Linked DNA regions of Homo sapiens. The main gene of each other region encodes a partner of the protein of the gene in region 2 in a complex. Each region holds a gene or a part of one and is shown on either strand. Other genes may lie near its edges.

The links. Proteins that work in one complex are often made in the same cells at the same time.
Region 1: the proteins of TUBGCP2 (region 2) and TUBGCP3 are in contact, whole or in part, in a cryo-EM structure (PDB 8Q62), measured with the Homo sapiens proteins. Residues at the interface, in NP_006650.1 of Homo sapiens: Gln172, His173, Pro175, Ile176, Phe177, Pro178, Trp180, Arg184, Ala186, Leu187, Ile188, Gly189, Phe191, Leu222, Tyr223, Val226, Val228, Asp229, Gly230, Arg231, Glu278, Ser281, Phe283, Gln287, His290, Ala291, Ala294, Arg297, Val300, Lys301; in NP_006313.1 of Homo sapiens: Glu272, Asn273, Cys274, Ser286, Leu287, Asp289, Thr290, Val292, Arg293, Glu296, Trp299, Ser361, Thr363, Leu364, Arg365, Leu368, Val369, Tyr372, Lys375, Ile376, Lys379, Ala382, Ala383, Asp386, His387, Ala402, Tyr403, Lys405, Thr406, Gly407.
Region 3: TUBGCP2 (region 2) and TUBG2 share a complex: the UniProt entries of both Homo sapiens proteins name them as parts of the gamma-tubulin ring complex.

What each region holds. Positions count from the first base shown.
Region 1 is NC_000013.11:112,577,327-112,585,153, forward strand, and holds part of TUBGCP3 (gamma-tubulin complex component 3), read right to left. Parts: intron 6,836-7,827; exon of another isoform or gene 6,713-6,835; intron 1-6,712. UniProt on the Homo sapiens protein: Component of the gamma-tubulin ring complex (gTuRC) which mediates microtubule nucleation.
Region 2 is NC_000010.11:133,277,102-133,285,493, forward strand, and holds the end of TUBGCP2 (gamma-tubulin complex component 2), read right to left. Parts: coding exon 8,355-8,392; intron 8,113-8,354; coding exon 7,984-8,112; intron 6,902-7,983; coding exon 6,781-6,901; intron 6,121-6,780; coding exon 5,977-6,120; intron 5,242-5,976; coding exon 5,122-5,241; intron 4,336-5,121; coding exon 4,172-4,335; intron 2,801-4,171; coding exon 2,665-2,800; 3' UTR 1,534-2,664; downstream 1-1,533. UniProt on the Homo sapiens protein: Component of the gamma-tubulin ring complex (gTuRC) which mediates microtubule nucleation.
Region 3 is NC_000017.11:42,654,515-42,663,110, reverse strand, and holds the start of TUBG2 (tubulin gamma-2 chain), read right to left. Parts: upstream 3,828-8,596; 5' UTR 3,608-3,827; coding exon 3,559-3,607; intron 3,278-3,558; coding exon 3,165-3,277; intron 2,963-3,164; coding exon 2,795-2,962; intron 2,473-2,794; coding exon 2,404-2,472; intron 1,911-2,403; coding exon of another isoform or gene 1,884-1,910; intron 139-1,883; coding exon 59-138; intron 1-58. UniProt on the Homo sapiens protein: Tubulin is the major constituent of microtubules, protein filaments consisting of alpha- and beta-tubulin heterodimers. Gamma-tubulin is a key component of the gamma-tubulin ring complex (gTuRC) which mediates microtubule nucleation.

The sequences.
Region 1 (7,827 bases), on a different chromosome or scaffold from region 2:
TCCATATGATGTGATGAAAATGTCACTTCACCCTGGGGGTCTTCCTCCCAAAAATATGTAGCCCCAGTCTAGTCATGATAAAAATATCAGACTCAGTTGAGACAGTCTACTAATAACCTTTAATCCTCAAAATTCTCAAGATCATGAAAAAAAAAGTCCGAGAAATTGTCAATGTCAAGAGAAGCCCAAAGAGACAAGACAAATGAATGTAACATTCCTAGAGGGAGCCTAGAGACAGCAAAAGGCCACCGAGTGCTAAGTGAGGAAATCTAAATAACTATGGAGCTTGATTAATACTAGTGTATCATTATTAATTAATTAATTCTAACAAGTGTACCACGGTTATGTAAGACAAAATGGTACTGGGCTTACAGGAACTCTATATTTGCAATTTTTCTGTAAGTCTATCATCATTCTAAAATAAAACATTTTTTTAAAATATATTAATGCCAAGACTCACTTTTCACAAATTCTGATTTTATCAGTCTGGAGTGGGGAGCCATGGCATCAATATTTTTTAAAGCTCCGTTTTCAAACTTTTAGTCTTCAAGATAAGAAAGCAACTAAAATGTGAGGGGGGAAAAAGCTTTCTTTGGTAAACTCAAAAATGAATTTCAACCTATATCACATGCCACATATGAAAATTTGTTGGGAAAAGCTGAGTGTTGGGAGAAGCTGAGGCAGGGCTTGCATGTCTGACTAACGTAAAAGAGTCTTGGAACATGTCCGGGGTCCAGGGTCTAAAATCCCTTGAGGCCTTTGGAACGCCAATCTGTGCTAAAGGGCGGAAGGCTACCCTGACGCACCATAATCTCAGCCCAGGGCATAAAACCCCTCGTGGCTTGGATGGAATCCAGGACTCGTGGCTCTGGAATGTGTCTAGACTTGCTGGCTCCTTGCTCCTTGCTCTCCCAGGATCGATTGTATCTTGAGTTAAAAGAACCTGCTCTCGGCCGGGCGCGGTGGCTCACGCCTGTAATCCCAGCACTTTGGGAGGCCGAGGCGGGCGGATCACGAGGTCAGGAGATCGAGACCATCCTGGCTAACACGGTGAAACCCCGTCTCTACTAAAAATACAAAAAATTAGCCGGGCGTGGTGGTGGGCGCCTGTAATCCCAGCTACTCGGGAGGCTGAGGCAGGAGAATGGCATGAACCCAAGAGGCGGAGCTTGCAGTGAGCCGGGATAGCGCCACTGCAGTCCAGCTTGGGCGAAAGAGTGAGACTCCGTCTCAAAAAAAAAAAAAAAAAAAAAAAAAAAAGAACCTGCTCTCCATTATCTCAAGTAGCAGAGCAGATGCTAAATCATCACACCTGTAAATCATGTGCTTAATGCAACGCGACCTTTCGACCCCCACATTCTCACCACCTGTTTCTTTGTTTGATCACCAATAAATAGTCTGGGCTTCCAGAGCTCAGGGCCTTCACAGCCTCCATACTTAGCGATGGCCCCCTGGACCCACTTTCGCTCTCAAACTGTCTTTTCTCATTCCTTCGACTCCACCAGACTTCGTCACCCCCACGACCTGGTGTTGGGTCTGATCACCCCAGCAAAAATTAAATAGAAGAGTAAAACATAAGCCCCTCTTAGAAATAAAACAAAACAAAGAAATCTTTGCAACTTTGAGTTTGGCAGAGTTCCTACATGACACCAAAATGATGACCCATTTTTTTAGAAATTCATACATTGGCCTTCATCAAGATTAAAAACTTTTGCTCTGCAAAAGACACTGTTAAGAGAATGAAAATACTGAGAAAAAATATGTGCAAAACACAAAGACATAAGCAAAAGTTTTGAACAGATAATTCACCAAGAAGACATATGAATGGCAAACACACACACACACACAAAGATGTTCAACATCACTAGGAAAATTAAAATTAAAACCACACTGAGATATCACAACACACTTGCTAGAATAGCTAAGATTAAAAACCACTAACACTGCTGAGTGCAGGTGGGGCCACGGCATCCCTGGAGCTCTCCCACACTGCTGAGTGACAGTGGGGCCACGGCATCCCTGGAGCTCTCCCACACTGCTGAATGCCCGCGGGGCCACGGCATCCCTGGGGCTCTCGCACACTGCTGAGTGCCAGCGGGGCCACGGCATCCCTGCAGCTCTCCCACACTGCTGAGTGCCCGCGGGGCCACGGCATCCCCGGAGCTCTCGCACACTGCTGAGTGTCAGGGGGCCACGGCATCCCTGGAGCTCTCCCACACTGCTGAGTGCCGGGGGGCCACGGCATCCCTGGAGCTCTCCCACACTGCTGTGTGCGGGTGGAGCCATGGCATCCCTGGAGCTCTCCCACACTGCTGAGTGGGGGTGGAGCCATGGCATCCCTGGAGCTCTCCCACACTGCTGTGTGCGGGTGGAGCCATGGCATCCCTGGAGCTCTCCCACACTGCTGGTGCAGCGGCAAAGCAGCCACAGCCATACTGGAAAAGAGTCTGGCAACTTCTGAAAACAATGAGCATGCACCTGCCCTGAGGCCCAACAACCCCACTTGCAGGTGTTTATTCTAGAAAACTAACTTAAGTTCACATAAAAAACCTGTCCATGAATGTTCATAGCAGCATTATCCATAACTGCCAAAAACGGAAGCACTCCAAATGTCCCTCAGTGGTAAAATGGATAAACTGGTTCATCATACAATGGAACACTACTCTGCAATGAAAAGGTGAACTATTGATATGGCACTGTAAATGCATCTCAAACGCGTTATACTAAGTGAAAGAAACAAGTCTCAAAACTTTTGACTGAACACTGTATGACTGCATTTACGTGAAATTCTAGAAGCGGAGACATACACAGACACAGGATGGTGGCGGCCAGCACAAAGGCAAAATGGTAGCACAGAGGAAATCACTGTGAACCTAAACACTGAGAATTTTTTTAAATGGGCTAAATAGCAGAATGGAGATACTAAAGGACAATTTAAATGCAAGCTAGAAAATCAAACACAACAAAAGAACAGTTAGAAATTATGAAGAAAAAATAGTAAAATTTTTCTATCATTAAAAAAAAGTCAGCCCTGCGTGGTGGCTCACACCTGTAATTGCAACACTTTCAGGGGCTGAGGTGGATCACTTGAGCCCAGGAGTTTGCGACCAGCCTGGACAATACAGCAAGATCCTTCTCAAAAAAAAAATTCTAAGTCTGTCACTAGCTTTGAAAAAAATAATAAATTTTAAAAAAAGGAAAAGTCCTCAGATTGAAGGATCATCAAGTGTTAATCCAGGTAAATTTTTAAGTTCCACACCTAGACACATTATTGCAAAATTTCAGAACATGCAGGATTTTTTAAAATTCTAAAAGCTACCAGACACATCTTCAAAGGAGTAAGAAATGGATTAACATCAGACTTCTCATCAATAATGAAAGAATACCTTCAAAGTGGGCAGAGGAAAAACACTTCAGACCAGAATATCTATATCTGACTGATGATCCAAGAGTTCAGGAATAGAAGCGTAAGAGAAATAAAGACATTTTCAGACTATTAAGTAATTATTTAGATCAGCAAATCCTGTTGATTCTATTTCTAAAAGCATATCCCAAATATGATCACTCCACAGCTACCATCCCATTACAGGAAGTCTCCTGAGGAGCTGCTCACTTGCTTCCACCTTTGCCCCCTTAGAGTGAATTATCCACCCAGCAGTCAAAGTGATCCTCTTAAAATATAAATATTATCATCACTCTGCTCACACACCCATCACACTCACAACAGAACCCAACCTCCTGGCCCCAGCCCAGGGAGCCGGCCCCTTGCTCCCCACATTGCACTCCTGCTATTCCTGGAACACACCAAGCTCACCTCCAGCTCGGCACCCAGCTCTCTCTTCTCCACATCCTCTAAGGACTCACACCCCCCCATCTTTCTGTCCCTATTCTAGCTAAAGCAGACACAAGCGCACTGTGTCAGCAAGGATCCAGTGAATGCCTGCATAGTGGGGAAAGGAACAAAATGAAATCTAAAATGTTTTGTGGGGTCACAGGGTCGGGGTAGTTTTTTTCTCCTTATATTTTTCCACTTTCTGAATTTTTACACTGCGTATATATTAATTTTACAAATATTAAAAGTATCATTGAAAAGTTTCCTTTAAAAGTTGTGTCACTATTTAAGAATTTTTTTTTTCCCAGACAAGGTCTCACTCTGTCGCCCAGGCTGGAGTGCAGTGGTAAGATCTCGGCTCCCTGCAACCTCTGCCTCCTGGGCTCAAGTGATTCCCCCACCTCAGCCTCCCAAGTAGCTGGGACTACAGGTATGTGTCACCACATCCAGCTAATTTTTATATTTTCTGTACAGACAGGGTCTTACCATGTTGCCCAGGCTGGTCTCGAACTCCTGGGATCAAGCAATCCTCCCGCCTTGGCCTCCCAAAGTGCTGGGATTACAGGTGTGAGCCACCGTACCCAGCCAGTAAAAATTATTTTTAGGTTACCATTTTCACACTCAAGTACATCACATAAATATCCCCAATCCAAATGTTTTATATACTTTTCAACTTTCTCATACCAAAAAGTTAGGAACTCTTCAATGCCAGAAACACTCTCCTCTTCACCTCCTCACTTTCTCTGCACCTCAGATGGATGTCATCATTTCACCCCCACTTACCTCTTCAGCCACACCTGAGTCTCCCTGTCCTCTTACCAACCAAATTTCCAGTTTATCCTTCTTGCTGATTATAAAATATTTTTAAAAATCCAACTGTTACCTCTTAAACCAAATCTACTTAATCTGTGCTTCAGAGGGAAAAGCACAGAATCCAGACTACTAAAGAAATTAGACATAGCAATCATTCCTTGTTTAGTGAACCTGCAATCAAAGAATAAGCTGGGAAAAAATCAAGCAATGTCCACTACACGCTTCTGGTTTAAATACTCCCAAAATACTGTTCAGTGTTTAAAGTATAACTAAACTCAATCAGTAATTCAATGAATAACTCCTAAATACTTACTACAGGCCAAACACGTCAGGCCCTAACAATATGATGTACAGTGGTTAATGAGACAGACGTAGAACATAACAAATGTGGCACATAAGTACCCAAGGCAGACTGTGATAAGAGCGTCAAAGAAAATGAGGGCACTATGACAGCTCATGACCAGGAGGACCTCGTGAAGTAGATGCTGAGGGAAGGCCTTGCAGGAAACACCGTTAGCCTGGCAGCCAAGGCTGCCACGTGAGGAGCCCAGGGACCAGAGAGGGGAACCCACAGGGAAGGGCGGCACTGGACACTGCTGCTGCAGGGAGGCCGTGCCACAGGGCTCTAAATGCCACTCAGTCAGTCACTCCATCGAGAGCCCCAGGTGACAAGGTCCAGATGTAGATCTCTGATGATTCTGCTTAATGCAAGAGTGAAAAATAGAGTACTCCATTTTTTTGGCCACAAATCACCTAAGGAGAGGTCTAGTTCTCCCACCTCTAATCTGCTCTGGGTGTGTGAGGGGTGGGCAGTTCTCAGGTTCCTGGAAGGGGAGTGAACACTCCTCTGATGATCCTCTGAAATTATTTCAATGAATGCAAGGGCACACTGCCTGACCAGAGAGCAGTGCTGCTGAGTTGTACACTCTAAACACAAGAGCGGATAGAGGTGAGAAGCCATCCCACAAGCTGGGCCATGACTTATTGTCTCTATCGAGCACACAGAGAAATTCGCCATCAAATTCAACACTTAAAAGCCGGGGTGAATTAATTCAAAATATCAAGCTGTAGAATCAGAACTTGGGTTCCAACCTTGGCCCCGCAATTTACTAGCTCGATGATAGTGAGCAAACTACTTAATCTCTCAAAGTCTCAGTTTTCTCATCTAGAAAATGAGGTTCACCATAATTCTACCACAGTATAAGCACAACATCCAGCATATTTTAAGTTTTATATAAATGTTAGCTATTCGTATTGTTATTAACCTGAAAATATTAAATACATACTATATCTGCTACAGCCATTAGAATCACAACTCAAAAAATGCACCCAATTTTTAACCTTGAGCAAGATAATTTGGTCTTCATCTTGAAGACTACAAATAGAGAACAAATTAAGCCTTCAACAGATTCGATGAGATTGGTTTTCTAGAAAGGACCCTCTGACTGAAGAGGAGAAGAGGAACTAGAGGAGATACAAAGCCAAGGCAAGACCCTCAGCTGGAATTGCGTTCAGTCCCAAATGTGAAGGCTCCAGAGACACCTGGATGTGGGCCCAAGAGCTTTTAAACAAAAAAGTTGCCCTTTGTATCCCCAAAAGATTCTATATACACTCAGGTTAAAGATGACAACTGAACTTCAAGATGCACAAAAATAAATTCGACTCAAGTGAATACAGAAACTCCACAGTTGTGTGTTTCTCAAGATTCAAAAAACAACTGCGGAAAAGTTGAACTGTTTGGGGAGACCCAAGTTTCTGCCTTCCTGTTTCTTGTCGACAGCGTGGACTATATGTTCCACACTTCTGCTTTTCTGAAGGATGGGGGAGGGGTCAGGAGGGCGTTGGGAGTAAGCCACAGTGCTTAGTAGAGGAACAGAGCACATACACTAGCCACCCTTGACTCCAGATGCAAGTCAGAGTAACTTATCACGCATTTTAATGTTTCGGATGCCAAGCTCCAACAGACACCTACAGGATCAGAAGCCCTAGAGATGAAGCCCACAATATTAATTCTGAGTAAGTCCCACATTTAGAGAGTTTAAAATGAAAAGGCATGAAGTTAGATACCATAAAAAGTCCTGTTCTCAACCACTGGCCACCAGCTCCCCTTCCCACAGGCAATCAACGTTATCAGGTTCTTGTGAAATCACAGGCGATTCCAATGCATGGCTCTAGTTGAAAAGCAATGCTCTAAAACAACAAAAACATTACTCTAGATGCGTGGTTCTCAAACTCTTTGGTCTCAGGGCTTCTTTACACTATTACGATTGAGAACTCCAAAAAGCTTTTGTTTATGTAGGTTATATCTATCCACAGTTACCATATTAGAAATTTAAGCCAAAACAATTTTTAAATTTTAACTTATTGAAAAATAGTAAATCCATCAAGTACAACTTGAAACAAAGCCTGAAACTCTGAAGTTTTAATACACATCTAATGTATATCTTAATATACATGTAATACACATTGATCTTCCCAAGAATGTAATTATATAACCAAAGGAAGATCACATGGTATTTGGAACTTCATCAAAAGCTCTTTACCATTTTGGAAAATCATGAAACCAATAGCAACACCACTTGTGGTACTGAATCACCAAAACAATAATCCTTTATCTTCTGATAGTGGCTTGTAGGACACTCATAGAGGTCTTGCATATTATGGCAATCATCTTCGAATATGCTGTGTACTGTAGTCATACCTGAACATTTATGATGAAATACTTATCTAATATAAATTCCTCTTTATGTATTCTTTACCTCATAGTTAGAAAAAGGATTACAAAGTAGCTATGAAAAGAAGTGTTACCTCTGACAGATTTGAACATTAACATCAAGCACACTGTTTCCAATGATAAGAATAATTACGCAAAGACATAATAAATAAATGTGCTCCCAGGAGGGGCAGGGATATGGAGACAGGATTTGACTATGACTGGCTGGCAGTATGTGTTTCAAGCAAATTCACAGATGTTATAAGTTGGAAAAGGTGGTAAATCATGGTCATGCTAACTTTGTAAAACTGTCAAGCACCATTATATGTAGGTGCTTTGCTTCTGAAGGTCCCTTGAAGTCAACTGTATAATTTTTTAAAAGATACCTTATAAAAATGTGATTCATATGAAATTCTCATTAAAAGTAACAAGTACCTATTATGCCTTGATTTCATAGTACTAAAAAAAA
Region 2 (8,392 bases):
GCTGGAAGGAGGTGGCGCCAGGCAGGTCCTGGAGGGGAAGGGACTTGTGAGGGCCGCCTGGCGGTTTCAGGAGAGGGGGTCTCTGATTTCCTGGGGAACAGAAAGCCTCAGGCAGGGGCAAGTCATGGCTTTGTGGGCATAGGTTCAGCCCTGTGGGAAGCTCTGCCACCCTCCCCCCCAAGCCTGCGCCCCCTCCACCAGGCTGAGGCCTCACCGGAGTGGGATAGGCATGGGCCCGCAGGCGTCCAAGTGGGGAGGGGGAGCCCTAGGTGGGGGTCCCAGCCCAGGTGATGGCAGGTGCAGGGGCCGTCCCTAGCCTAAGATCCCCAGACAGCAGCTGACGCTGGCCGACGTGGACCAAAGCCTGCAGCAGCCCACCGTGGCCTGGCTCCGGCGTCTCCAGGCCTGCGGCCAAGCGTGCTTGCCCTTGGTGACCACATTCCCCGTGGTGGGCTCAGCCTCGAGGGTGCAGGTTTGGGCTGACACCACAGCTCCCCAGACGGTCCACCCAGGACCCCTCCCTGGGGCTTTCACAGCCAGGCCGCCCTCCTGGAGTGGGAACAGTGGTGGTGGCAGGAAAGGCAGCTCAGATGACCACACAGGGCGCTGCTGACAGATCACATGGGGGGGGGGGGCCTCAGGGCCTCCCTGGGGAGAGGCAGGGCAGGGCCAGCAAGGGGCTGGAGGGAGTCCTGCCTGGAGAGAGGGCACCAGGGCAGGGCGAGTCAGGGAACTGCACGGGCCTAGGGGCAGAGGACAGAGGTCAAGGGGCAGTGGCAAGAAGAGGCCGGGGCCTCGGACGTTATCCTGGGAGGACAGGGAACCCGGAGGATCTAAGCTGGCGTGAGTGATGCTGTCACATTTTGTCTCAAAGCCATTCTTACCCTAATGTGAATGGCATGAAAAGCAAGAAAGCAAGGGCTGGCACTGGGCCGCAGGTGACTTCTGCTGCCTGGGGGTGTGTCCGCTTGCCTGTGTGGCACAGGACGAGGTCCCCCAGGCTGCCGAGAGGCTCCCAGGTAGGGCTGGGGATACTGGCCTGTGCCTGAGCTCATGCAGGTGACCCTGTTATTATAGAACAATGGCCAGCTGGCAATCACACTTCCCTTCCTTGACCTCATGGTGCAAGTTACTCAACAGCAAAGTGCAAAGGCGGCACGCTGGCCACATCAGAGGCACAGCAAGGCCCCTGCCGACGCTGAGCTACCAGGGATTTATTCCTAAAAAGACAGGACCAGCTTGGGCCAGAACAGGCTCCTCCCGCGCTGAGGAAGTTCCACCCAATCCCACAGAACACAGCTCTCCTCTTCAGCAGGTGCCGGGGGGTCTGGGAGCCTGAACCCCACAGCCCTGGAGGCTTCCCTCCCCTCCTCCTATCACCACCTGCAAACCCCACTTCTCAAGGCCCAGGGCTTCCCAGACCCCAGGACACAAGATCAGGGGTTTCTGGGCCTCGGGGCCAGGCAGGAAAGCTAGCAGGCTCCTCTGCTCACCAGTCCGGCATTTGCACAACACTGAGACTGACAGCTTGGGTTGCTGATAAATGTGTTTACTCACAGGCCAGACCTGCACAGCCTGCAGACAAGGAGGAAGCGGTTTGTGGCTGGAGAGTTGGACACCCCCACCCCCACTCGGCGGTGCTCTCAGTGAGGCAGCCCCGGGTGAGAGCTGCCCACAACCCTTGTTCCCCGCAGGATCCTGTTCTAGCTATCCTTTCTCCCAACCTCGCCTCCAGGGCCCTTCCTCACTGCCCAAGGGGGCCGAGGTGCTGAGAGCTGAAGGTGACAACAATACACATGCAGGTCAGCAGGAAGGGGCAGCTTGGCCAGAATGTAACCAGAGCAGACCAACCTGGCCGGGCAGCCCTGAGGCTCCCAGGGCCCTGTCACACTGGGGATGGCGGTGCTGCCCACTGTAGCCCTGGAGGTGGGAAGACAGGGCAGATGATCGCCCGAGGGGGATTGGGTGTCAGTCTGCTGAGTAAGTTCTACGTAACAAGGCGGTACCGGATAGGGCGGGGTGGGGTTTCCAGCCAGCAGCAGAGCCTGCCCCTCGACCCACTCCCACGGAGGGGGAGGTGTGGGCTCCCAGGGTGCCTGAGGGCCCTGTCTGTGGCCTCCTGCCCTGGACCAGTTGGAGCAGCAGCAGGAGGAGGGTCGTGGAGGCGGGTGAGTCCTCAGGAGAAGGAACGGGGCTGCCTCTGGGGCCAAAGCAAACCCGACACCCGATGCCCGGTGGGTTTCCACAACTCCCTGACCGTTTCCAGAGGCTTGTCCCGGTTCCGACAGACCTCAGGAAGCCCGGCCCCAGCTCACCCGGAAAGATGTGGACACCAGGCCTGGATCTTACCCCACATGCATCTTTGCTTGCTCCTGGCTTAAACACCATGTATTTCCACTTTGAGGCCAAAAACACCCAAAAAGGTGATAGTGTAATTTCAAAAAGCAAACAGATTAGCAAATCCAGGGAGACATCCACCCTGCCTGGGCAGCTTCTATAAAACGAAACCCAGCGCCTTGAGAAACAAAGTGAGCTGAGTCAATCATTCCTGCTTTATATTTAAACTGCAAAGACAGAACACAGAGCATTCGATTTGAAAATTCTGGACCCATTTGCACCAGTCCCTGCTGACCCCACACCCTTCCTTCCTGTCACAGCCAGGGCTCACTGTGCGGTGACTGCGACCCTGGGTGCAGGAGCCGGGGGCCCCCGCAGGACAGGCACTTGGGGGGTGGCCTTCTGGCTCCTCTCTGCAGACAGGCGCTCCAGGCGCTCCGTGTAGAAACCATTGAAGTCAAGCCTGTGAGGAAGGACAGTGGAGCTGGGGTGCACACCCCTTCTGCGGGTGCATGCTGGGCAGCAGGGGTGTGGAAGGACGGTGCAGCTAGGGTGCACACCCCTTCTGCGGGTGCGTGCTGGGCAGCAGGGGTGAGGAAGGACAGTGGAGCTGGGGCACACACTCCTTCTGCGGGTCCGTCCTGAGCAGCCCTGCTCCTACCATGGGGAAGTGTTCAGCTACAGAGACCATAAGAGGCCCTGCAGGGGTGAGGGTGAGGCACGCTCCTAACTAATGTTTCCACAGGAAGGTTTTCAGTCCTGTTCAGTCCTGCTCAAAGGCACAAACACAGGTTTCTTCTCTCCTGGCCCCAGAAAGTTGGGGCTCCCATCACCCCAACAGGGCCTAGCAATGGGGCCTGAGGTGTCAGGGGCTTGGAGAACCAAGCAGTGGTTCTCAATGCAGGGTGGCCTCAGAAATCCCTGCTCAGAAAATCAGAACATTTGTGGGGGGCACAGGGCACAGGGTGGTCCAAAAGCACAAATAGGCACCTTCCCAAGGACAGCACCCCCAAGGGCACCACCCCTTCCAGGCTGGCAGTTTGGCCACCTGGCCCTTTCCCCCAGGCTAGGTGTTAGTGCAGCATGAGGGAAGCTGACCCAGGCCTGATCAGCCCCACAGGACACACACAGCCGCAGGGTGCCAATGGGGCAGCCCAGTTGCACAGAATGTCACACCCCAGGGAGAGCTGGGCTAGCCTGACTTCAGGGAGTGGCATATGACCAGCACTAGCACCAGGACACAGACCTGCCCCACCTTCTGAAGGAGGCTACACCAGGTGGACCAGGGGAGGGTGCAGGGGAGATGGGGCCTGGATGCAGGGACAGGTGCTGAGCTGGGGTGGCGCTGGGCTGGGGCAGATGCTGGGCTGAGCTGAGGAAGGGCTGAGCCGGGGCAGGCGCTGGGCTGAGCTGGGGGAAGGCTGAGCCGGGGCAGCACTGGGCCAGGGCGGTGCTGGGCAGGGGCAGGCGCTGGGCTGAGCTGGGGGAAGGCTGAGCCGGGACAGCACTGGGCCAGGGCGGTGTTGGGCAGGGGCAGGTGCTGGACTGAGCTGAGGAAGGGCTGAGCCAGGGCGGTGCTGGGCAGGGGCAGGTGCTGGGCTGAGCTGGGGGAAGGCTGAGCCGGGGCAGCACTGGGCCAGGGCAGTGCTGGGCAGGGGCAGGTGCTGGGCTGAGCTGGGGGACGGCTGAGCAGGGACAGCACTGGGCCAGGGCGGTGTTGGGCAGGGGCAGGTGCTGGACTGAGCTGAGGAAGGGCTGAGCCAGGGCGGTGCTGGGCAGGGGCAGGCGCTGGACTGAGCTGAGGAAGGGCTGAGCCGGGGTGGCGCCCACCCACCTGGAGATGACGCTGGCCATGCCGTGCTCACAGTCACTGGTGCTATAGATGCTCAGCCGGGCCAGGAGGTCCAGCAGGTGGGCTGAGAAGTTCTTGTCAAACTTGTTGATGGTGGCCTCGAAGCCGGACACCAGCTGCACAGTGTCTGCGTGCTCAGCCAGGTGCTGGAAAGAAAGCCGGGGTGCGTGAGCCATGCCCACCCCCACCGTGGGCCTTCTTGGCTCCACACTGTTCCCAGCAGGCCGGTGTCCTTTCCCTTCCCCTTTTCTTAAATAGAAAACATGGGTTCCATGATGTTTTCAGGAGATTCAAGGTAAAAAAGACATCAAAAAACATTCCTGAGAACCCAGCACTCAGAGAAACACTCCAGGCCTCGTGGGATGAGGTGGTCACTCTCCTTTGGGGTGAGATGAACGAGCTTTCCCAGCAGCTTTCTCAGCAAGGAGGTCGGGGCGCCTCTCAGTGTCCCTCACCTCCGGCCCCCACGCTTCCAAACCCAACTCCTCTCTGCCAGCTCCAGCTCCAGCGTGTGAACACGGGACTGCCCACCCCACCATGCCACCCCGGAGCCGGCGCCGCAGGGCCATGCCTCCGAGGACATGCAGCCTGTCCGTGCCTGCTGAGAGCCTGACGGTTCTAACTCAGGACCGAGCTCAGCAGGGACAGCGGGTGTGGCCCCTGCCCTCGCCCAGGCGCCCTGCACAGCGCTCGCTCTGAAGATCTGTGGGGGTTCCCTCGAGCCCGACTGGCTGAAGTGGGGACCAGAGAGCTGAGAAGATTGTGAGAGGCTCTTGTGCTTGTGCTTGGAAGCTAATTTTAAGTCTTTTCTTCAATCTGAGGGGAGATGGAAGTAAAAGGGGGGAGGTTTGTTCTCCCTGCGTCAGGATGCCCAGGCTGCCGCCCAGCCGGGAGGAAGCGTCTCTCTCTGGCCAAACCTGGAGGCCACGCACCTTCCTGGCGAGCTCCTTCCGGGCCCGCTCCTCGGCCCCTGCGGGCAGCCCCAGGACGGTGCTGTGCTCCAGCGTCTGCCCGCCCAGCTCGCCATCTAATTTCATGCTCTGTGTAAATTTCTAGGGGGGGAGAGTCGCAAGGAAATGCTTCTGTTAGTTACAACCACAATGCTTTGCAGAAAAAACAAGTCCTGCAGGCACGTCACCCTCCGCACCTCTGTTGTAGCCTGCGGCTGGGGGTACACAAGCATCTCTGAGGCTGCAGGGGAAATGACTTATCTGTGCCGACAGAATTCCCAGGTCTACCTTCCACGGTGACCAGCTGATTTTCCTGAGAACAGTTATTTTGGTGTTTCCCTATTTGGGACCCTGAAGTGGCCATGCCCTCCTCCACCTCCCCACTCGCCCTCCTCCGGACCCTCCCCATGGCACTGCCTGGAGAGCCTCATTCTCAGACCCCTGCTTCTGCCACTAGACACGCAGGTTCTGCACCATCGCCAGTCGGCAGCTGCTTGTGACTAGTGCCTGCAGGTCCTTAACGGAATCAAATAGCTCAAGTGCTGAGGAAAAGAGCATGCAAGGGCCATAAGCAAAGGCCCCGGACAGAGACCAGCACCACAGAGGCTGAGGGATGGTTCGGGAGGAACACAGCCCTGCCCACGCTGCCAGGGCAGGGGCTCCAGGAGGGAATCACCCGGCCAGGAAGACCAGGAGTTCTGGAAACACTCAGATCCCAGCGGCTCCTCCACGAACACAAGGGCAGGAAAACGTGAGCAGGCTGCGTGCGGCCACGGTCGGGACATGGTCTGCCCACCCGCGCCTGCCCACCCGATGGTGCTACCCACACCCACGCACCTGCATGCAGTTGGTGAACATGACGCACACAGACATGAGCTTGGAGAAGACCTTCAGCAGCTCGGGGTTGGTGAGCATGCAGTCCTTCAGGCAGGTGTCCAGGAAGCCTGTGTGGTGGCCAAGGACGTCGTCAATGTTGGAGGCCTGCGGGGAACAGGCCAAGCCCCTTCTCAGAAAGACGTGGCTGACAGACGGGCCCTGCATGCGCACGTGCTCAGTTCTGGCTTTGTGCATTCCTGTTTACGCACTTCTACCTCTTAAATGGGCCTTGGGCTTTTAGGGGAAAACTTCCAAACACCACTAAAAAAATGATGGGCACACCCCGAAGGGGTTTCATTTCTTAAGGCAGAAGACAGGAAGGGAGGCTGCGGCAGCTTCTGGAATTTGGTACCAACAGATTCTGCCTTCAGGCCCCTCAGCCTCAGATGCGCAATGTGGGAGAGACAACCTCGGGGCAAAGACGGCTCAGAGTCCCCCTAGGACGGCAGGCAGCAAGGGGTCCCGTGTGTGGCCAGCAGTGTGGGTGCAGCCCCGCCCTGGGGGATCCCTTCCTCTCCCCTTGCCCTGCCTCTCCTGCACTCCGTGTCTCCCTGCACTCCCTGCCTCTCCCGCATTCCCTGCCTCTCCCGCACGCCCTGCCTCTCCCGCACTCCCTGCCTCTCCTGCACTCCCTGCGTCTCCCTGCATTCCCTGCCTCTCCTGCACTCCCTGCCTCTCCCCTCGCCCTGCCTCTCCTGCACTTCCTGTCTCCCTGTGAAAGGAAAGTGGCTTTCAAACGTTATTATCTGTGGAGCTAAAACTCACGGATTTCAGGTTTTTCTCCAGGATGTGCCAGGTCGGTTCCATCACTTCAAACATCATGTAGTATTGAATATTCTGGACGAAGTTGAGCATTCGCTGCCGCAGAGTGAAAGCCCCAGCAAACCTGAGTGACACGGAGGACGGAGGACAGCCATGGAGGACGCGGCCCCGACAGCGCCCACCAAGTGACACGGAGGACGGAGGACAGCCATGGAGGACGTTCTCTGGACGTGGCTATTTCCTCTGCAGAGCAAGCGCCCCTCCCAGCACACCAGACACTCACGGCCGCTGCTCCTGCGTCTGCCCAGCACAAGCTGTCACCGTCTACCAACCTGTGCCCTGCAGGGACACCCCCAGCCAGCTGGACGGTGGAGACTGGGACGCGGGCTCCTTGGTGGACGGACCCCTCGGAGCCCACGCCAGGAAAGTGCCACACAACAGATGCATATTTGTGCTTCATCATCAAGATGAGTTCTTTTTCTTCTAATTTCTTTTTTTCTTCGAGAGACAGGGTCTTGCTGTCGCTCAGACTGCAGTGCAGTGGCACGATCTTGGCTCACTGCAGCCTTGACCTCCTGGACTCAAGCAACCCTCCCACCTCAGCCTCCTGAGTTGCTGGAACTACAGGCATTCCCGGCTAATTAAAATAATTTTCTTTTTTTTTAAGAGATGAGCTCTTGTTACATTGTCCAGGCGGGTCTCGAACTTGTGGGCTCAAACAATCCTCCCTCCTCAGCTTCCCAAAGTGCTGAGATTACAGGCATGAGCCACTGCACCCGACTGGACAAATTCTTATGAAGCTCTGCCATCGACCCCTTTTTTCAACACCCTAGAGGCACAGACCGGCTGCAAAGCACCTCTGGTCCCAGCAAGATGTGGCTGTCCGCTCTCGGGAGGAGCTAGTGTCCTGCACACCGACCTGGGCAGTCTCCATGCCCGTGCAGTCACCACAAGGCTCCAGAGAGGGCTGAGGGACAGAGCCAGCATCCCCTGTGGGGTGGACGGCAGCGCCGTGCAGCCCCAAGACAGGAAAATGAAGCAATGAAGCATTATGGATCTAAAGCCACCAACGTGCGCTTCCAGATGACACTTCCAGAAGCCTAGAAAGCTGTCTACCAGGAGGGCACAAGGGGGGCGCTGCACCACTGGGCAGAGTGCAGCGAGCGCTGCTTCAGGAGGGCATGCGGGGGCAGAGGAAGAACGCACCACTGGGCGGAGTGCAGCGAGTGCTGCTTGGCGGTTTTGTTGCTGATCCAGACGCTGCAGAGCTGCCGCTCCACGTGCTTGCAGTAGAACATGTGCCTGAAGAGCATCTGGTAGCGAGTGAGGGCTTTCCTGCAAGAGACGTGGCGGCACCTCAGGTGGGCCTCCGTGACCGGCGGCGTCGTGGACACGGCGTCTGTACTCCACAGTCCGCACCGTGGCCCCCGGACAGCCCGTGAATCTCTCGGACACTGAAGGCCGGGGAGAGCCGCCTTGGGTCCTCTGTGGGACGAGGTGGCCACCGCGTGGCACAGTTCTCGCTTCTGCCAAACCTGAGTGAAGATCTGGCAGGTGCCCGAGCAGCCGACCCGCACCTGTTGATGATGAGCGAAAGGGGCCACTTGACGATGTA
Region 3 (8,596 bases), on a different chromosome or scaffold from region 2:
AGCAATGACATTACTCAGGGAACCAGGGTTAATGCCCTCTCCCCAAACACAGGCTTGCCTGTCATTCAGTCGCTCCAGGAGGTAGGAGCCCAGGCCAGAACCCGTACCCCCAGCGATGGAGTGACACAGCACGAAGCCCTGTGTGTATACAGGAATAAACAGACTCAGTTTCTCCTGCCACACTCTCACAACACAATTCTGATACCAGATGGGTGGGGTCTTACCACACACATCAGGTAAGCAGTCAATTCTACAGTAGATGCCAGCTGGGTATCCACTAATTCACTTCAATTCTGGACTACCTACAGACTGTCCCTGACTTAGGATGGTTTAATTTAAGATGTTTTGGCTTTATGATGGGTTTATCAGGACATAATCCCATCTTAAATCAAGAAGCATCTGAATTACAATGGTTCAATTTACAATTTTTCAACTTCATGATGGGCTTATTGGGTTATAACCTGATGCATTTCTACTTACGGTATTTTCAATTTTTTTTTTTTTTGAGACGGAGTCTTGCTCTGTCACCCAAGCTGTAGTGCAATGGCCCGATCTTGGCTCACTGCAACCTCTACCTCCTAGGTTCGAGCCATTCTCCTGCCTCAGCCTCTCAAGTAGCTGGGACTACGGGCATGTACCACCACGCCTGGCTAATTTTTTTATTTTTCGTAGATACGGGGTTTCACCATGTTGGCCAGGCTGGTCTTGAACTCCTGACCTCAAGTGATCTGCCCGCCTCGGCCTGCCAAAGTGTTGGGATTACAAGCATGAGCTACCGCACCTGTCCTCAAATTTGTTTTGGTTTTAGAGACAGGATCTCACTCAGTCCCCCAGACTGCAGTGCAGTGGTGTGATCATAGCTCACTGCAGCCTTGAATTCCTGGGCTCAAGGCATCTTCCTATCTCAGCCTCCAAGTAGCTTGGACTATAGGCATGTACCACCATGCCTGGATAATGTTTGTATATTTTGCAGAGATGGGGTTTCACCATGTTGCCCAGGCTGGTTTTGAACTCCTGGGCTCGGATGATCCACCTGCTTCGGCCTCCCAAAGTGCTGGGATTACAGGCATGAGCCACTGTGCCTAGTCAATATTTTCAATTTGTGATGTGTTTACATCCTGATAAACCCATTGTAAGTTGAGGAGTATCTGTACCTGAAGATAGCATCAGATCCCACAGAGTGAAGGCTCAGTCCCACAAGACTCTCCCACTTCCAATGCCAACACAAGCTTCAGGTTGTTTTATCTGTGCCTCTGACCAACCAGCTATAAATCGAGGTTCTCAGGACTGCTCCTTGGGTTCAATTAATTTGTTAGAGTAGCTCACAGAACTCAAGGAGACACTTACTTACGTTCATCCATTTGTTATAAAGGATATTTTAAAGGATACAAATAAACAGCCAGATGAAGAGATACCGAGGGGAAGCTCTAGAAGGGTCCGGCGCATAGGAGTTGCTGCCCTGTGGCGTTGGGTTTGCACCCTCCTGGCCTGTGGATGTGTTCTTGTTCACCTTCCTGGAAGCCCCCAAACTCAGTCCTTTTGGATTTTTATGGAGGCTTCATTACACAGGCATGACCGATTAAATCATTGGCAATTGGTGCTCTACTCAATCTTCATCCCCTCTCCCTTCCCCAGAGGTGAGGGGTGGGCCTGTAAATTCCAACCCTCAGAGCACCAGGTTTGTTCCCCTGGCAACCAGCCCCCCATCCAGTGGCTATCTGGGACTTTCCAAAAATCGCCTCTTTAACATAAGCTCAGGTTTGGTTGAAAGGCACTTGTTCCTCCTTAGTACAGTGGTTAGTAAAATTAACTAATTAAAATAAAATGAAAGATTAAACTAAAAGAAACGGGCTTGTTATAAATAACAAAAGACTGTCTTTCACCTTTATCACTCTGGAGCTGTTCTGGAGCTGTTTCAGAAACCAAGGACAAAAGGTCAAATATTTTAACAAAACATACTATTATTGCTCTAGTCCCTTAGGAAATTACATGGGTTATAAGAGCTGTAAGCCAGGAACATATCGCACCCAGCATGGGGAGAGATGGAGAGGCAGTCTCCAAGGATCTGGGGGAGAGACTTCGGCTTGGTTCATTCTCCATTCCCAAAACGCCAATGTCTCAAAGCTTCCTCTTATGCATCCAGGCTGAGGCTCCTTGGGAAGGTTTGGAGCTGGAGAAGCAGCTGAATGACTCATGCCTAAGGGGCCGGTGCCATTCAGATTTATGACTTCCTTGAGAACAAAGATTATATCTTATTCACCTCAATATCCCACATCTGATGCTCCATAAACGGGTTTTGAATTGAATTGCTCCCCTCATATTACCTATCCAGGCCACCTCCTGACCTGTCCCCAGCACTCTTCGGCCTCCCTGCCCATTCCTTCCCCCACTCCATAACTTCACCTCCAAACTGTCACTTCCATCTGCTTCTCGGTCTATGATGTCAAAGATGTCTTCATGAATTTTCTCACCCTGTATAGAGATATGGAAAGGGAGGGTCAGGCCAAAGGTTCCAGAGAGCATCTTTTCTCAGCACAGCACCAAGAATTCTGTCTACCCTGGAATATTGTTGCCACCCTGAAGCAGAGCCTAGGCTGTAGCCCTCAACCCAGAAGTGCTACTATTGCAAATGATTTGCACAAAATTTGCATAAACCTCTCCCTGGCTGTCCCTCTTGTTCGGGACATCCTTTTGTCTCTTATTTTCTGTCAGTCAGGTCAAATTCCTAGTAGCTTGAGCCTGCCTTGCCTCTGGATGGGAATATCAAAGGTCTCTGGAATGGTCGCTAGGACACCTGGGAGAATCCGCTGGCCCAGTTGTTGCCAGCTCCTCCTCCATGTTCCGACAGGTAGATGTTCTCTGGGTTGTAGAGCTTGGCATAGGGGGAGTTGAGGATGGAGTGGATCACCCGGGGTTCCAAGTCCAGCAGCACGGCCCGGGGGATGTAGTGCTCATCGTCTGCCTGTCAAGGGGAGTCCAGGAGGGGGCCCAATCAGCTAGGGCGGCCCAAGTCCGAAGTCCTCCCAACTCTGGCTCCCTCCGGCCCTCCCTCCTCAAGCCAGCCGCCTGGCCCTACTGCCCAGCGGGGTTCCCAGTACCAGGCCACTCCCTTCCCTTCCGCCCCCTTGGGCCACTGCCGCCCCCGGCCAAGTCGCTGGGGGCACCTGGTAGAAAAAGACGTCCTTGCGGTCAGTGCCCTCGGTGGCGAATTCCTCCACGATGCCCTCGGGGCTGATACCATGCTCGGCGCACAGCTGTTTCCAGAACTCGAACCCAACTGGGGGAGGGGGGAGATGCCCGGGTCTGCTGGAGCCTTAAGGCCTGAGGAGCCCAGTTTTAGTCTCAGAGGCTGACACGATCAGAGGGTGGACCCAAGATGCCTGGGTTTGGTAGCTGCCCCAGCCCCGGGCTGGAGGCGCAGCTCTCGGTCTGGGTTATCCAGAGCAGCAGGGCAGGGGGTTCATGGAAGGGAAAGGGGGACTGGTGGAAGCCAGGCACTTGGGTGGGACCCGAAGGGGCAGAACCAGAGACCGGCGGGGCCGGCGCTCGCTTGCTCACTCTGGTTGCCGCACTGGCCCAGCTGCAGGGTGATGATCTCCCGGGGCATCGCTCTTCAGACGTGGGCGCGCCAGCCCCGGCCTGGCGAGAGTCACGGCTGAGACGAATGCCCGGCAGCCAGGAGCGCAGGACGTGGGGAGCGCGCGCTCTCTTCGCCTCTTGACGCGGATGCTCGGTCTGCGCGTGTGCAGCGCAGGCCTCTCCTCGGCCGGTGGGCCGGGGAGCCCAACCTGGGCATCATTTTCTCCCTCAGCAGTCGCAGCTGGAATTCCGCACAGGCGCAGAGTCAGGCCACGCCCGCTCCTGCCCACCGCTCCGCGCCTGCGCAGTGAGACTCGTTGGGGGTGGCAGGGTCGGAACCTGGATGTGTTGGGGAGGAGAGGAACGGGGGAGGGGAGGAAAGGGGAGAAGCGGCCAGGTGGATGTGCTTGTCCACGTGTAAGGAGTCATCTACCTATATTGGTAGGTGAGGACACTGTCAGCTTTGCTAGATCAAAGGGCTAGAAGCCAACTTTTCTTCGTTTAAATTTCTGTTTTTTAATGGTGTTACAATACATACACATGTATGTTACCTTTTTATTTTTTAGAAGGGTCTCGCTCTGTCGCCCAGGCTGGAGTGCAGTGGCGCGATCATAGCTCACTGTAGCCTTGAACTTCTGGCTTAAGTGATCCTCCCACTTCAGTCTCCCGAGTAGCTGGGACTACAGGCGTGTGCTACCACGCCCAGCTAATTTTTAAATTTTTAAAATGTATTTTTATAGAGATGGGGATCTCACCGTGTTGCCCAAGATGGTCTTAAACTACTGGCCTCAATCAATCCTCCTGCCTTGGCCTCCCAAAATGCTGGGATTACAGGCATGAGCCACCACTCCTGGCCTAAATTTACCATTGTAACCATTTGTAAGTACTGCATACAGTTCTGTGGCACCAAGTACACTCACATTGTTCTGTAACCACCACCACCATTCTTTTCTAGAACTTTCTTATCTTCCCAAACTGAAACTCTATCGCGATTAAACAGTAACTTCCCCTTGACTACTCTAGGCACCTGATATGAGTGGAATTATACAGTATTTGTCTTTTTGGGTCTGGCTTCTTTCACTTAACATAATATCTTCAAGATCCTTCCATTTCGTAGCATGTGTCAGAATTTCCTTCCTTTTTACAACTGAATAATATTCCATTGTATAGATGTACCACATTTTGCATAACCATTCATCCCTCCATGGACATTTGGGTTGCTTCCACCTTTTGGCTATTGTGAATGTTGCTGCTTTGAATGTGAGTGTACAAATATCTGTTCGAGTCCCTGCTTTCAATTATTTTGGATATACACCCAGAGGTAGAATTGCTGGATCATATGGTAATTGTGTTTAATGTTCTGAGGAATCGCCATACGATTTTCCATGGTAGCTGCACCATTTTAAATTCCCACCAGCAATGCACAAGGGTTCAGTTAAATAAATTTTATAGGAGGCCATTGATTTGCACTGAGCTCCTGTGCTTGGCTCAACAGACCAAACCAAAATGGAGTCACTCACGCTAAAGTTCTATGTCACTAAGCAACACTAAGTTGTTTATCAAACCTTCAGAGGAATCAGGAGAGGGAAGGAAGAGCCAAAACCCCAAACAAGCCAGTGTGAGCCGGCATGATACGGAAGTCCTTTTACAAGAAAAGTAACTTTGAAAGGACCCATCTGCTTTTTTTCCTTCTGTTTCTATTTTTCTCTACCCTTTTTTGTCCATAAAAACTAACCTGTGCTTGACTCATCTGAACACTCATTCTATTTATTTTATGGAATGAAACGTAGCCTGATCTAGAATCACAAACACTGTAAATGCCACTTAAGATTTTTTTTTTTTTTTGAGACTAAGTCTCACTCTGTTGCCCAGGTTGGAGTGCAGTGGCATGATCTCGGCTCACTACAACCTCTGCCTCTCTCAGGTTCAAGCGATTCTCCTGGCTCAGCCTCCCTAGTAGCTGAGATTACAGGTGTGCACCACCACACCCGGCTAATTTTTTTGTATTTTCAGTAGAGACAGGGGTTTTGTCATGTTGCCCGGACTGGTCTCGAACCCCTGAGCTCAGGTAATCCACCTGCCTCAGCCTCCCAAAGTGCTGGGTTACAGGCATGAGCCACCATGCTCAGCCAAGTAGCCAAGTTACAATCTTTTTTTTTTTTTTTTTTTAGATGGAGTTTCGCTCTCGTTGCCCAGGCTGGAGTGCAATGGCTCGATCTCAACTCACCGCAAGCTCCACCTCCCGGGTTCAAGCGATTCTCCTGCCTCAGCCTCCCAAGTAGCTAGGATTACAGGCATGCACCATCACGCCCAGCTAATTTTGTATTTTTAGTAGAGACGGGGTTTCTCCATGTTGGTCGACCTCATGTGATCCACCTGCCTTGGCCTCCCAAAGTGCTGTGGGATTACAGGCGTGAGCCACCACGCCCAGCCTTTTTTTTTTTTTTTTTTTTTTGAGACGTAGTCGCACTCTGTAGCCCAGGCTGGAGTGCAATGGCTTGATCTCAGCTCAGTGCAACCTCTGCCTCCCAGGTTCAAGCAATTCTCCTGCTTCAGCTTCCCAAGTACCTGGGATTATAGGCACGCTCCACCATACCCTGCTAATTTTTGTATTTTTAGTAGAGACGGGGTTTCATCATGTTGGCCAGGCTGGTCTCAAACTCCTGACCTTGTGATCCCTTCCAAATGTTGGGATTACAGGCGTAAGCCACCGCACCCAGCCTCTGAGACTTTTTATGCAGCCTTGGAATCCTGGGCTCAAGCGATCCTTCCACCTCAGCCTCCTGAGTAACTGGGACCACAGGCACATGCCACCATGCCAGCTAATTTTTTTTTTGAGACAGAGTCTCTTTCTGTTGCCCAGGCTGGAGTGCACTGGCATGATTTTGGCTCACTGCAACCTCCACTTCCCGGGTTCAAGTGATTCTCTTGCCTTGGCCTCTTGAGTAGCTGGGATTACAGGCATGAGCCACCACGCCCGGCTAACTTTTGTATTTTTAGTAGAGACAGGGTTTCACCATGTTGGCCCGGCTGGTCTTGAACTCCTGACCTCAGGTGATCCACGCGCCTCGGCCTCCCAAAGTGCTGGGATTACAGGTGTGAGCCACCATGCCCGACCTTTACAGTGACTTTTCTACATTCCACCAGGCTGGCTGTTCCCTCAGGAATAATCTCCTGTGTGTCTGAATCATATATACCCAACTGTGACTAGAATGGTGAACTGTGAGTCCTGCATCAACCCAAACATGCTCTTCCACTCTGCATACTGCCCCTAAATTAGTCACTCTCAGAATCCATTTTAGTAAATGTTCCTCAGGAAGCTGATGATACTGATCTATGAAATGGAACAATTCCTCCACACTCTACTGTCTGGTTTCGATAATTACTTGGTTCCTTCACATTGACTACCTTCTTGGTAACCACAGGTCTCAGAGGTACTTTCTGTTGTCCCTGCATAATTTCCTCCTTTGTGGGTGACTCCGAGGCTAGTGGCCTGAGCTCAGCCAGACCCACATCTGTGCTTGGTCCAGCCTCAATTCCTAACCCAGCACCCTCTTTTACTTTCATTTTAGCCATTATAGATAACAATAATCAGGGGGCTGAATATTTCACATTTTTCTTATTAGTTTGCATTTCCTTATGCATTCAATGAACCAATTCCTGGGAGTTGGATCCATCTCTAAATTCCACTAGTAAGTTTTACCTTTAGTAACTGATCTCAACAGAGTTGTGGCTTCACACCATGGTGACCACGTGGTCACCCAGGAATTGACGACCTCTTCCTCCACCCTTTTATCCTTTTTCTTCCCAAACCACATGTTTATGTGAGTCAGGGCCATTCCTGCAAATCCCACTTCACTGACACCAATTGTTTAGAGAAAACTGTAACCATTTCCTCTACTCTCACACCACAGCAATCATCCACACAGATTTCTGTGACCATACACATGGGGCTTTTGTTCCCCACCCAGCAGTGGACACCAGCTGGGTGTCCTTTAATTCAGTTCTAACACCATCTACCCAGAGACAGTGTCAGACCTCATAGGTTGAGGGCTTAGTCCCCAAGACTGCCTCCCTGCCCCGCACCAGTCCCAAGTCTGGGCCTCCAGAACTTCTGACCAGCAGGCTTTAAGTTGGGGTTCTCATGACCCCCTCTTTGGGTCCAATTGATTTGTGGGAGCAGCTCACAGAACTCGGGGAAACACTGACAATTACTGGTTTATTAGAAACCATATTGCAGGCCTAGTGTGGTGGCTCATGCCTATAATCCAAGCACTTTGGGAGGCCAAGGCAAGTGCATCGCTTGAGGTCAGGACTTCGAGACCAGCCTGGCCAACATGGTGAAACCGTCTCTACTAAAAAAAAAAAAATTAGCCAGGTGTGGTTGGTGGGTGTCTGTAATCCCAGCTACAAGGGAGGCTAAGGCAATGAGAATCGCTTGAACCCTAGAGGTGGAGGTTGCAGTGGGCCGAGATGGCGCCACTGCACTCCAGCCTGGGTGAAAGAGCAAGATTCCATTTGAAAAAAAAAAAAAAAAAGCCAGCATATCGCAAAGGATACAGATGAAGAGACACGGAGGGTAAGGTATGAGGGCAGGGGTGTGGAGCTTCCATGCCCTCTCTGGGTGCTCCACCCTCCAGGAACCTCCAGGTGTTCAGGCATCTGGAAGCTCACTGAACCCTGTCCTCTTGGGTTTTCATGGAAGCTTTATGGGAGGGTCTTAAGGCCCACAGTCAGAAAGGCCCAGGAAGGTTAGAGTGAAAGGAGTGCAGGAGAAGGTCAGATACTGCCCCTGAGGGCTAACACACTCAATATTATAACAAAAGACTAACAAGGACTATGAGAGTCATGAGCCAGGAGCTGTGGACGAAAACCAATATGTATCATAACACCATACCATCTTTAAAAAAAAAAATAGAGATGGGAGTCTCGCTGTGTTGCCCAGGCTCATCTCGGACTCCTGGGCTTCCTGGGCACAGTGGAACAGCCTGTAATCCCAGCACTTTGGGAGGCCGAG